Linked DNA regions of Homo sapiens. The protein of the gene in region 2 purifies or fractionates together with the protein of the main gene of each other region. This does not show direct contact. Each region holds a gene or a part of one and is shown on either strand. Other genes may lie near its edges.

Region 1 (3,036 bases), about 80 Mb from region 2:
TGGATCTCTGAAGTGGGCAACTTGAACTAACTTGAAGAGGAACCAATATGATTCTCAGTTCTGAACCTTGGTTTTAAAGAAGTTCATTTATATGGTAGACTAATACCCAAATTTTCTTTCTGCCATCTAACATAAATCCTGAAGGTCACAGTTTAGTACTCATAGTTTTTAAATGCTAAAGTTGTGTGAGTATGAATAAAAGCAAATACCTCTCAGGGTTTTAGTGCCATCGGGAAGGATATTTCTAAATTTTGTTGACATTTTGAAAGAATTAGTTTTGCTTTCCTCCTATCATTGCCTAATGTTTACCTAATATGAGTACATTTCAATCAAAGCTGGTTATCACAGAAGAAGATATACTCAGCTTAGGTATAATTGTAGGGAAAAGCATGTGATTAATTTAAGTACTCTTAGAAATAGTGCAACTGAGAAGACAGATAATAGCATATTGTTATACATAGTAGAGGATGTCTCCCCAAGTTTAAGGGACATTTCCCAAAATGACCAACCAAATCATTTCTAGTAACCCTTTAAAATAGTAGTTTCAATAGAGAATTCCATTAAAACTAGTCTTATGACAGATATTAACTGTGTTCAGATTTTATTAGGCTAGCTAGTTTCTTTCTATTTAATATTTAAATCTTATCATGAAATGCAGTGATGAGCTGTAAAAATAAATATGAAATAAGATCAGAAAATCATTAGTAGGTTCAAAGCCTTTATTATTGCTATTATGTATAAGCCTAGAAATGGTCACTTCCCAACAAAAAATACATCCCTTGTTATACTTAGGACAAGTTGTAAACCCCCTTTGTTTTGACAGTAGAATTGTTCCAGTGAATCATTTATTTCCGGTGAACCCCAGACACGATAAGCAGTGTGGTCTTTAAATTTTATTAGTTGGTTGTCACCATCGCACTAATAGACAATCTCCATTTTCCACAGAATAAAACTGTAATGACTTTAGGTCATTTTCCAGCTCGATTTCTCTGCCCGGCTTCTAAAATTAGAACGAAGGTGGGGAAGGATGTGATTAAGACAGATCCGATAAAGCATGCTACACATACTCTTCCCCCACCCCGTCCCCAGGCAGTAGCTTACCCTTAAAATCAAACAAACAGACCCATGGTCTCCATTTAGAATCAAACTGTTGCTATCTAGAGACAGTTTAATGTCATAATACGAGGACTAAGCTTGACTTTGACTTTGTATTTTGCTGGGCAACTTACTTTGGGACTTTCATAGGACAACAGAAGGTCTGACACAGGAACTTTGAGAAGACGTGACAGCAATCCCTTCACCTTTTGAATTGTCATGGAGCCTATCAAAAGACAAGAAAAGTCCATTCGTTCTCTCAAATGACAGTTACCTGTAAAACTAGCTCATGTGATGAGACCACAGTATCATTGCAATGATAGCTGTATCTGTCTTTTTTTTTTTTTTTTTTTTGAGACTGACTTACTTACTTACTTAAGTAAGTCTTGCTCTGTCGCCCAGGCTGGAGTGCAATGGTGTAATCTCGGCTCACTGCAACCTCCGCTTCCCGGGTTCAAACAATTCTCCTGCCTCAGCCTCCTGAGTAGCTGGTGCCCATCACCACACCCAGCTAACTTTTGTATTTTTAGTAGAGACGGGGTTTCACCATGTTGGCCAGGCTGGTCTTGAACTCCTGACCTCGTGATCCGCCCGCCCTGGCCCCCCAAAGTGCTGGGATTACAAGCATGAGCCCAGCGCCTGGCTGTATCTTTCATTTTACCCAAGTCACTTTACCCAAGTAAGTAATTAGGGGAAAGCCTGAGTCTTGTACCACCTGTTCATTTGGGGAACTGTGGGAAACGGAGCCAACGGACCTAAGTGCCCTTTGACAGTGAGTTTCATACCATTTCAGTAGTGTATTTCTTTCTTAATCTGAATAAACCAGAATGATACTCTCAGCACAGAAGAATAAAGGGAGCGAGTCATTAACGTTTTCTTTTTAAACCTTTATGATGACTTCCTTATGAATTACTGAACGAACACTGGAATGGGACTCAGGTATCCTGAGGACATCTCTCAACTCTGGCCTTAGTTCCCCCTCTGTAAAATTAGGGTGCCAACTAAATGATCTACAAGGTCCCTTCCAGCGCCGCCATTCTGTAATTACATCATGTGTAACTGTATTAAACATACACAAGTGACTGCCAGGCATGGGAATGTAACTTCCGAGTAAATGCTTTGGTTTGTTCAGAATACACTATGAACTTCTTTCCAAAGACGGGTTGTGGTAAATAGTGGATATTTTGATTATAAGAAATAGAGTTTCCTTGAAGCTTTAGCTGGAGATACAGCAATAGTGTGGTGTTCCTACAAATATCACAGTGTATTCAAACATATTTTTCTATCAAAAATCATTTTTGTAAAAGCTGTGTGTTTTTATCCAACTTGTGATAATAAATGTTCTTTATTTTAGAATAAAAACTGGCCTTTTTGTATGTATTGAATACAGTTAATAGAATTTATAATTTTAATTAACAATTTGCTCTTTCATGTGTGAATATGTGATAGTCTAGTCCTTTCAAAAGATTGAGACGGACTGGCTTTCATTGTTTGAAGGCTGGTGAGAGAAGGGGTTACCTGCTGCACACCAGTGGGGAGTGACATACTCCTAACACATGCCAGAAACAAAAAGTTTGGTCATAAAACAGTTCTAATAAGAAATCTGCCTGGCCTGCTCACACCTGTAACCCCAGCACTTTGGGAGGCAGAGGGATCAGAGCCCAGGAATTTGAGACCAGCCTGGGCAACATGAGGATACCCCATCTCTACAAAAAATAAAAAATTAGCCAAGCATAGCGATGTACGCCTCTAGTCCCAGCTACTTGGGAGGATCACTTGAGCCCAGGAGGTCAAGGCTACAGTGAGCCATGATCGCGCCACTGTACTCCATCCAGCCTGGGTAACAAAGTGAGAACCTGTCTCAAAAAAAAAAAAAAAACCTGCCTACTCATACCGGTTCTATAGAAGAAAGTAGCAATCTCTATGTAATAAATAGCATTA
Region 2 (3,654 bases):
AGTAGTTCTAGTTTTTAAGACATTGGTTGGCCTATCTTATCTTTTTTCACTAAATTGGAAAATCCCTAAAGGTCTAGCTTTCAGATGGAACCCAAGCTCTCTGCTTAGTAGTGCTGTTAAGTTCAAACACAGGACTAATTACAGGGACTATTCTCTTTGCTTTGTTCCACTTATGGCACAAACTGCATCCTGACCTCTCGCCATCGACCTAATGATTATATGCTGCTACAACAGAATAAAGTGCAGATGCAAATCCACCACAAAATGAGGAAAAAATTAAAGCCTCTACTTTCTGGATGCTGTAACACAAGTGCCAACTTTAGGCAAAAAGGTCAGCACGTATGTTTCAGACTCCTTACTGCAGGTGCTTCAGGGTTTGCTCCACTAATGCCTAGGTGACTAACAAATTTTCAGTCACATTTAGCAGATATTAATGGCACATAAAAAGAACAAAAGGGACAGACTGGATATTACAATATAGGGTAGTTTGTGTGGCTGGCCACATTGAGTCCTACATACCTCTCCAGCACCACTCACCCGGAGAAGTGGATATGGATGCCAGCTACTGTTTTTTCTCCCTTCCCAAACAGATACAGCTTGGCCTACAGCTGCACTGCCCCATAACAAGGAGACTTCACTTGACACCTAACTCCTGACAGGACTCTGCATCCTTACATCAGTAACAGAAGCTGGCTGGGGATGAAAAATTGTTAACTGCAACTTCTGAAAACCTTTTCAGAAATAAACTCTTCCTCTATTCCAAATCTCAAGGTCTTCAACTAGCCTACCGTAGAGCTTGAGGGGTGTTAAAGTTAGCTTGAGGCTCAGCCACACGCTCCTCCTCTTCTGGGCCATCATCTTCCATGTTGGAGAATCCCATCTCATCTTGGAACTGTGGGCAAAGGAAAGGGAGGGTTTTCCTGGGGAATGGGCTTTTGAATGTTGCTCCAGTGTTGGGAAGGAAAAGTGAAAACTATAAACAATACTTTAATAATGCTGGCACCCAGAAAGAGCCTACATCAGAACCTTTCTCACTTCAGGACTCCTACAAACCCACATATGGAATGACTATTATGCCAGGAAAGAAGTTGCTCAACCAGTCAACTTGTATCAGTAAGCACAGAGCTAGGATAACTCAAAATGATCAATTTCTTAAACAGAAATATCTTTTTAGACAAATTTATGGAAAAGGTAATTATTTGTGTGCAAAATACTTTAAAACTAGTTGGCAATCTTTAAGGACACACCAAATGACAGTAGGGGAAGCCATCAAAAGTTTTCAAGGGGCAAGATGTGCTGGCTCACACCTGTAATTCCAGCACTTTGGGAGGTTGAGGCAGGAAGATTACTTGAGCCTATGAGTTCCAGAACATGGCAAGACCCTGTCTCTACAAAAAAATAAAATAATTAGCCGGGCCTGTAGGTGTGTGCCTGTAGTCCCAGCTACTCAGGAGGCTTAGATGAGAGAATTGTTTTGAGCCCTGGAGGTCGAGGCTGCTGTGAGCTGAGATTTCACCACTGTATTCTCCAGAGCCTGGGTGACAGAGCAAGACTTTGCCTCAAAAAAAAAAAAAAAAAGCTTCAAGGAAAATTTTAGTAAGAATAACCTACATGTGGATAATCAAGAGTCTAGCAGTTAGCAAATTTCTTTTGTCATTATATTCTTTCCCAGGTAGACTAAAAGGAGAATTGGTTCAGTCCCTCTTCTAGAAGGAGCATCACAGAGATCAAAGGACACATTTTGTTGGAGAACCAACTTACAATCCCATGTTCTCACTTGAGGATCATTACTCACAGTTTCAAACAGATCTTCCATCAGCTCATTTGCTTCCTTTTCTGCAAAAAAGCCAAACGTTGTTGGTATAAATTAGATTCATTTTACAATATGGAGGAATTCCATGTAGACAATGTATGATGTTTTCAACAAGGCATCTGACGAATTCTTCATATCTATCCTTATTCCTGAGACAGGGTCTCACTCTGTCACCCGGGCTGGAGGGCAGTGGCTTGATCTCGGCTCACTGCAATCTCTGCTTCCCAGGCTCAAGCGATCCTCCCACTTCAGCCCTCCAAGTAGCTGGGGCAACAGGAGTGTGCTGTCATGCCCGGCTAATTCTTCCATATTTTGTAGAGATGGGTTTTCCCCATGTTGCCCAAGCTGGTCTTGAACTCCTGAGCTCCAGTGATCCACCCACCTTGGCTTCCCAAAGTGCTGGGGTTACAGGCATGAGCCACCACGCCCAGCTATCCTTCATTCATTTATTCAAAAACATTTATTGAGTACTTACTATGTTTCAATCCCTGTTTTAGATGCTTGGGATATATGAGAGAATGAGAGAGAGAGAGAGTTCTAATCTCATTGAACTTAAATTCTAATAGGAAGAAGACAAGGAGAAAATGTGAGCTAGATGATTTTTTTTTTTTTTTGAGACGGAGTTTCGCTCTTGTTGCCCAGGCTGGAGTGCGATGACACGATTTTGGCTCACTGCAACCTCCGCCTCCCAGGTTCAAGCTATTCTCCTGCCTCAGCCTCCCAAGTAGCTGGGATTACAGGCATGCACCACCACGCCCAGCTAATTTTGTGTTTTTAGTAGAGATGGGGTTTCTCCATATTGGTCAGGCTGGTCTCAAACTCCTGACCTCAGGTGATCCGCCCACCTCAGCCTCCCAAAGTGCTGGGATTACAGGCATGAGCCACCATGACCAGCCCAATGATTTTATAATTAGATGGCCTATCCAAACCCACACAATACTGAATGGAATCAAGAGACAAGTCTCCCAACCTGGGCAAAATGTCAACATATCTCTAAAAAAAAATTTATCTGGGCTTGGTCGCACATGCATATAGTCCCATATACTTGAGAGGCTGAGGTGAGAGAATCTCTTTGAGTCCAAGAAGCAGAGGCTGTAGTGAGCTGAGACCGTCCCACTGCATTCCAGCCTGAACGACAGAGCAAGACACTGTCTCCAAAAAAAAAAGAGACAGACAGAGACAAGTTTCCAACAGTGTTTCATAGGACTCTATCTTTGGACCCGACCTATTCAAAAACTCCATCAGTGAATTAGAAGACCAAGAGAACATACTTAACAAATCTGTAGATGATGTAAAGCTGTAAAGCTGAAAGGGACTGCCAATCCAATTGATGGAAAATTCAGAATCATATTTTCTCAAATCAACTGGATGTAACACGTAAGGATAAATTTAAAGTTCTACATTGAGGATTTTTTTTTTTTTTTTTTTTTAAATAGAGCCAGGGACTTGCTATGTTGCCCAGGCTGGTCTTGAACTCCTGGGCTCCAGCGATCCTCCCACCTCATCCTCCCAAAGTGCTGGGATTACAGACATGAGCCACCCCACCTGGCAAGATCTTATATGTGTATTCAAGATATTACACAACTCACTAAGTCTCCAGATGAAAACCAGAATCTCTAAATATAGTTTGACAGTTTGACAATGCCCAATGACAGACTAAATGAGAAATTAGGAGGCAGCTTGATTTTTTTTTATTTCCTCAGAGATCTTTGTTCTGAGTTCTGACTCTTGTTCTACAAATATTCAAAGTCGAAATGATTATCATGTTAATGGGTAAAGAGCTTCAAATCTTTGGCTATCTCATTTTTTTTTAATTTTTATTCATTTGTTTTACCTTATGT
Region 3 (3,654 bases), about 92 Mb from region 2:
CTGTCCGGCTGCAGGTGTATCCGCCGGTGGGAGAGCAGGTGGGAGTTCAGGCGGAAGCTCTTCCCGCAGGCACCACACCGGTAAGGCTTCTGGGCCTCGTGGCTCTCTAGGTGCCCATCCAGGTCCTCGCTGTCGCTGAACAGCTCCCCGCACACCGAGCACTCGTGCGGCTTCTCCTGCTCCCTGCGGCTCCGCAGATGCCGGATGAAGTTGACCCTCCAGCGGAAGATTTTCCCACAGTTCGGACACACGTAGGACTTCTTGGAGGTCTGCACCTCGCCTCCGGCCTCGGTGCTGCTCCGGTGGGAGGCGGGGAGGCTGCGCTGCTTCTCTGTGGGGCTCCCCAGCTCTTCTGTGCAGTACGGGCCATGCTGGGAGTCCTCGTCCCCAGAGCTGGAGAGAACGATCTCGATGGTCACTTCTTCATCCAGGCTGTTCTCTAGAGATCGCGGGTTGCCGCCAGCTACAGGAAGGCAACATGCAGGTCAGCGACGCTGCACAGGCCACATCCCAGCCCCTATGACCGCGGCGGAGGAACACTCAGCTTGGAGTTTACAAACCCGTGTTTTTACAATGGTCCTCGGTGACCGGGGCGGCCTGGCCAGCCCTGCAGGGGCCACTGGTGTAGCCTGTGAGGAAGAAATCTTCAGCATGGGCCCCGCTGTGTCCAGAGCATGCTGGGCACCTTGCTCTCCCTCTTCCCAGCCATTTTCCCTTATCTCCACCCCCAACCCTTTTGTTCTCTACCCACGGAGACCACCCCATCCCCCCAAGCTCTAGGAGTCTGTATTTATCTGGGTAAAGCCTTGACCATTTACAGATCATGCACTTAACAAGGCATGGGGGAAAGCTCTATCAGGATAGTGAAAGGACTTGAGAGAGGAAGACTCTACAACCTACACATATCATGTGCTGGGCACTTGCATGCTCCAGGGACTGTGCTAGACTTGACATGCACATTCCTATTTGCTCCTGGACGCAACCCGATGACCTATTGGTTGCCATGTTTACACATAAACTAAGGTGATCTGTGCCAGGAAGGAGGGCTGAAATGCTACTCAGCCTTGCTAGGCTGCTCAACAGTCCCAGACTGCCCAGAGTCCTGGGTCCCCCACAGCTCCCCGGCTCCCAGTAGCACCGCATTTCTGAGGCCACAGGTGGTGATGGATAAAGCTGCTCTGGACTTCCTGCATCCTGAGTCTGTGATGTTGGGAAGGTGGAACCACGGGGCGGGGCTGGGTGGACAGTGCAGAGCCCGGCCTGAGGTCCCGGCTTATGGAGCAGAGCCCACCATACAGGTGGCCTGTTTCCTCACTGCTGTGAAATGTAGAACTCAAATCTAGAACTTGGGGGGAGTGAACCAGGCCCTCCCAGATAAGAGTAGGAACATGGTTAGTCTGGGCTTCATGACTGTGGGGAGGAGAGCCCTGGCTAGTCAGAGCAGCTCAGGACAGGAGAAGTTGGACAAACAGAAGCAGGGCAGGAAGACACAGAGGCTATGGAGAGCAGAGAGATAAAGGGCAATGGTGGAAGCGGAGGGGGCATTTGTCCCTCAGTCACAAGGGGGTCGGGGGAACATGAGTCTGGGAGTGGGTACTGAGTCTGCCAAGAACCCACGTAGTATAGGAGGGAAATCATCAGATGAAGACAGAGATTGTGTTTGTGTGTGTGCATGTGTTTTTAATTTTTTGTACAGATGGGGTCACATTATGTTGCCCAGGCTGGTCTCAAACTCCTGGGCTCAAGCGAGCCACCCATCTCAGGTGATCCACCTGCCTCAGCCTCCCAAAGTGCTGGGATTACAGGTGTGAGCCACTGCGCCCGCCGAGAGGCTATGTTTGACGCTTATCTCGACTCTTGGTTTTCGAGCTGCAGGAACCTCGTTCCAGCCAGACAGCTTCTCTGAGCTTGGGTCATCTCGTCTACAAGGTGAGAATGACAGTGGCAGCCCGTTGCTCTAAGCTGCTGGTGGGGCAGGTGAGGTCATGTGTATGATGTACTTTGTGGACCTCATGGGGTGGAGACAAGAGCAAGGTGTAACTTTTACCAGGCTGCCGATGACAAGGTACTTGATCAGCAGTTGACTTCTGTTAATGGACTTGGGTGGAAGAAGAAAACAAAGTGACAAGGTGGACCGCTAAGATCTCTTACTTGTTAACTGGGCGAGGAGATGGAATTATGAGAGCAGACAGTGCATGTTATGGGCGAAATTGTGTCCCCCTGAAAATTTACATGATGAAGCCCTAACCCATAGAGCCTCAGAATGTGATTACTTGGAGATAGGGTCTTTCAAGAAGTAATTAAGTCAAAATGAAGTCAGATGGTGGGGCCAATCCAAAATCACTGGTCTTCTAAGAGGAGGAGACTGGAGGCAGACTTCAACAGAGGGAAGGACCCTGTGAGGACACAGCAAGATGGGAGCCGTCTCCAAGACGAGAAAGGCCTTGGAAGACACCAGCTCTGCTGAAGCCTTGATTCTGGACTTGTTGCTTCTGGAATTGTAAGAAAGTAAGTTTCTGTTGTTTAAGTCACCCAGCCTGTGGTACCTTGTTATGGTAGCCACAGTAGACTAACATAGACTTTGGCACCAGGAAGTAGGGTGCAGCTAAAACAAAGACCAAAAACTGTCGAAGTGATTTTAGAACTAGGTCATGGGGAGAGGCCAGGAGAGTTCTGAAGTGCATGTTTAAAAAGCCTTGAGGAAGTGGCTGGTAGAAATACGGACGTTATAGGAAATTGGAGAAAAGGAGATCCTCCAATTATAAAGTGGCAAAGAATTTGGCCAAACCATATTCAACTGTTCTGTGGAAACAGAAATTGTAAGTAAGGAACTCGGATACTGAGCTGAGGAGGTATCGAAGCAAAGTGTCAAAGGCAAAGACTAGTTTTTTGCCGCTTATAGTGAAACGTGAGATGAGAGAGATAAACTGAAGAAGGAATTGTTGTAGCAAAAAGGAACCATGACTTCAAGATTTGGAAAATTCTGTCTATCCATACGGCAAAAAATAAGAAAGCGTGCACTGGAGAGACACCAAGAGTGTGGCTGGCTCATCATTTGTTAAAGAGATTCTGGGTATGATTCACGGATCCAATCAACCATCTCAACAGAAGCCAGGAACAGAGATGAGGTTATCCAGGAAGGTCTATGGAGGACACCCTCGTCTGACGGCCTGCAACCCTGTGGACTGCATGGAGGGCAGGGTTTCTGAGTATTATATACCAGCAGAAACACTGCCAGCTGGAACTGAAAGGAAAAGAGATGGGATGAAATAAAAGAAGGCTAGGACTTCTGGGATTCTACAAACTGGCCGATAGATCTATCTGGCTATGAATATGTACTATCCTTCAAGAAAAGGGAAGAATGACTCCAAAGGTGGCTCAGAGGTTACAGGACTGCCACTGTCATCATGGGACCAGAGAGTACAGGCTCAGGAGGTGAAGTCATTTCCTTCTGAGTTCCAAAGAGCAGGGCCAGTAGCCTGCTGGGCCTGGAGAACAGAGAACTGAGCCAGAGGTTATTGCTGAGCCTTAAAATCCCATGGAAATGACCTGCTAGATTTTTTTTTTTTTTTTTTGAGATGGGGTTTCGCTCTTGCTGCCCAGGCTGGAGTGCAATGGCATGATCTTGGCTCACTGCAACCTCTGCCTCCTGGG

The links.
Region 1: the proteins of YY1AP1 (region 2) and B3GALNT2 purify together in Homo sapiens (affinity purification with mass spectrometry; 2 studies listed by BioGRID and IntAct, with this or other methods). This does not show direct contact.
Region 3: the proteins of YY1AP1 (region 2) and ZNF496 purify together in Homo sapiens (affinity purification with mass spectrometry; 2 studies listed by BioGRID and IntAct, with this or other methods). This does not show direct contact.

What each region holds. Positions count from the first base shown.
Region 1 is NC_000001.11:235,446,634-235,449,669, reverse strand, and holds the end of B3GALNT2 (UDP-GalNAc:beta-1,3-N-acetylgalactosaminyltransferase 2), read left to right. Parts: 3' UTR 1-907; coding exon of another isoform or gene 908-1,000; 3' UTR 1,001-1,229; coding exon of another isoform or gene 1,230-1,321; 3' UTR 1,322-2,480; downstream 2,481-3,036. Other genes in the region: TBCE (tubulin-specific chaperone E), read right to left, coding at 908-1,000, 1,230-1,321. UniProt on the Homo sapiens protein: Beta-1,3-N-acetylgalactosaminyltransferase that synthesizes a unique carbohydrate structure, GalNAc-beta-1-3GlcNAc, on N- and O-glycans. Has no galactose nor galactosaminyl transferase activity toward any acceptor substrate.
Region 2 is NC_000001.11:155,678,621-155,682,274, forward strand, and holds part of YY1AP1 (YY1-associated protein 1), read right to left. Parts: intron 1,837-3,654; coding exon of another isoform or gene 1,817-1,836; coding exon 1,796-1,816; intron 1,389-1,795; exon of another isoform or gene 1,308-1,388; intron 1,210-1,307; exon of another isoform or gene 893-1,209; coding exon 789-892; intron 694-788; exon of another isoform or gene 488-693; intron 1-487. UniProt on the Homo sapiens protein: Associates with the INO80 chromatin remodeling complex, which is responsible for transcriptional regulation, DNA repair, and replication. Enhances transcription activation by YY1. Plays a role in cell cycle regulation.
Region 3 is NC_000001.11:247,300,814-247,304,467, forward strand, and holds part of ZNF496 (zinc finger protein 496), read right to left. Parts: intron 464-3,654; coding exon 1-463. UniProt on the Homo sapiens protein: DNA-binding transcription factor that can both act as an activator and a repressor.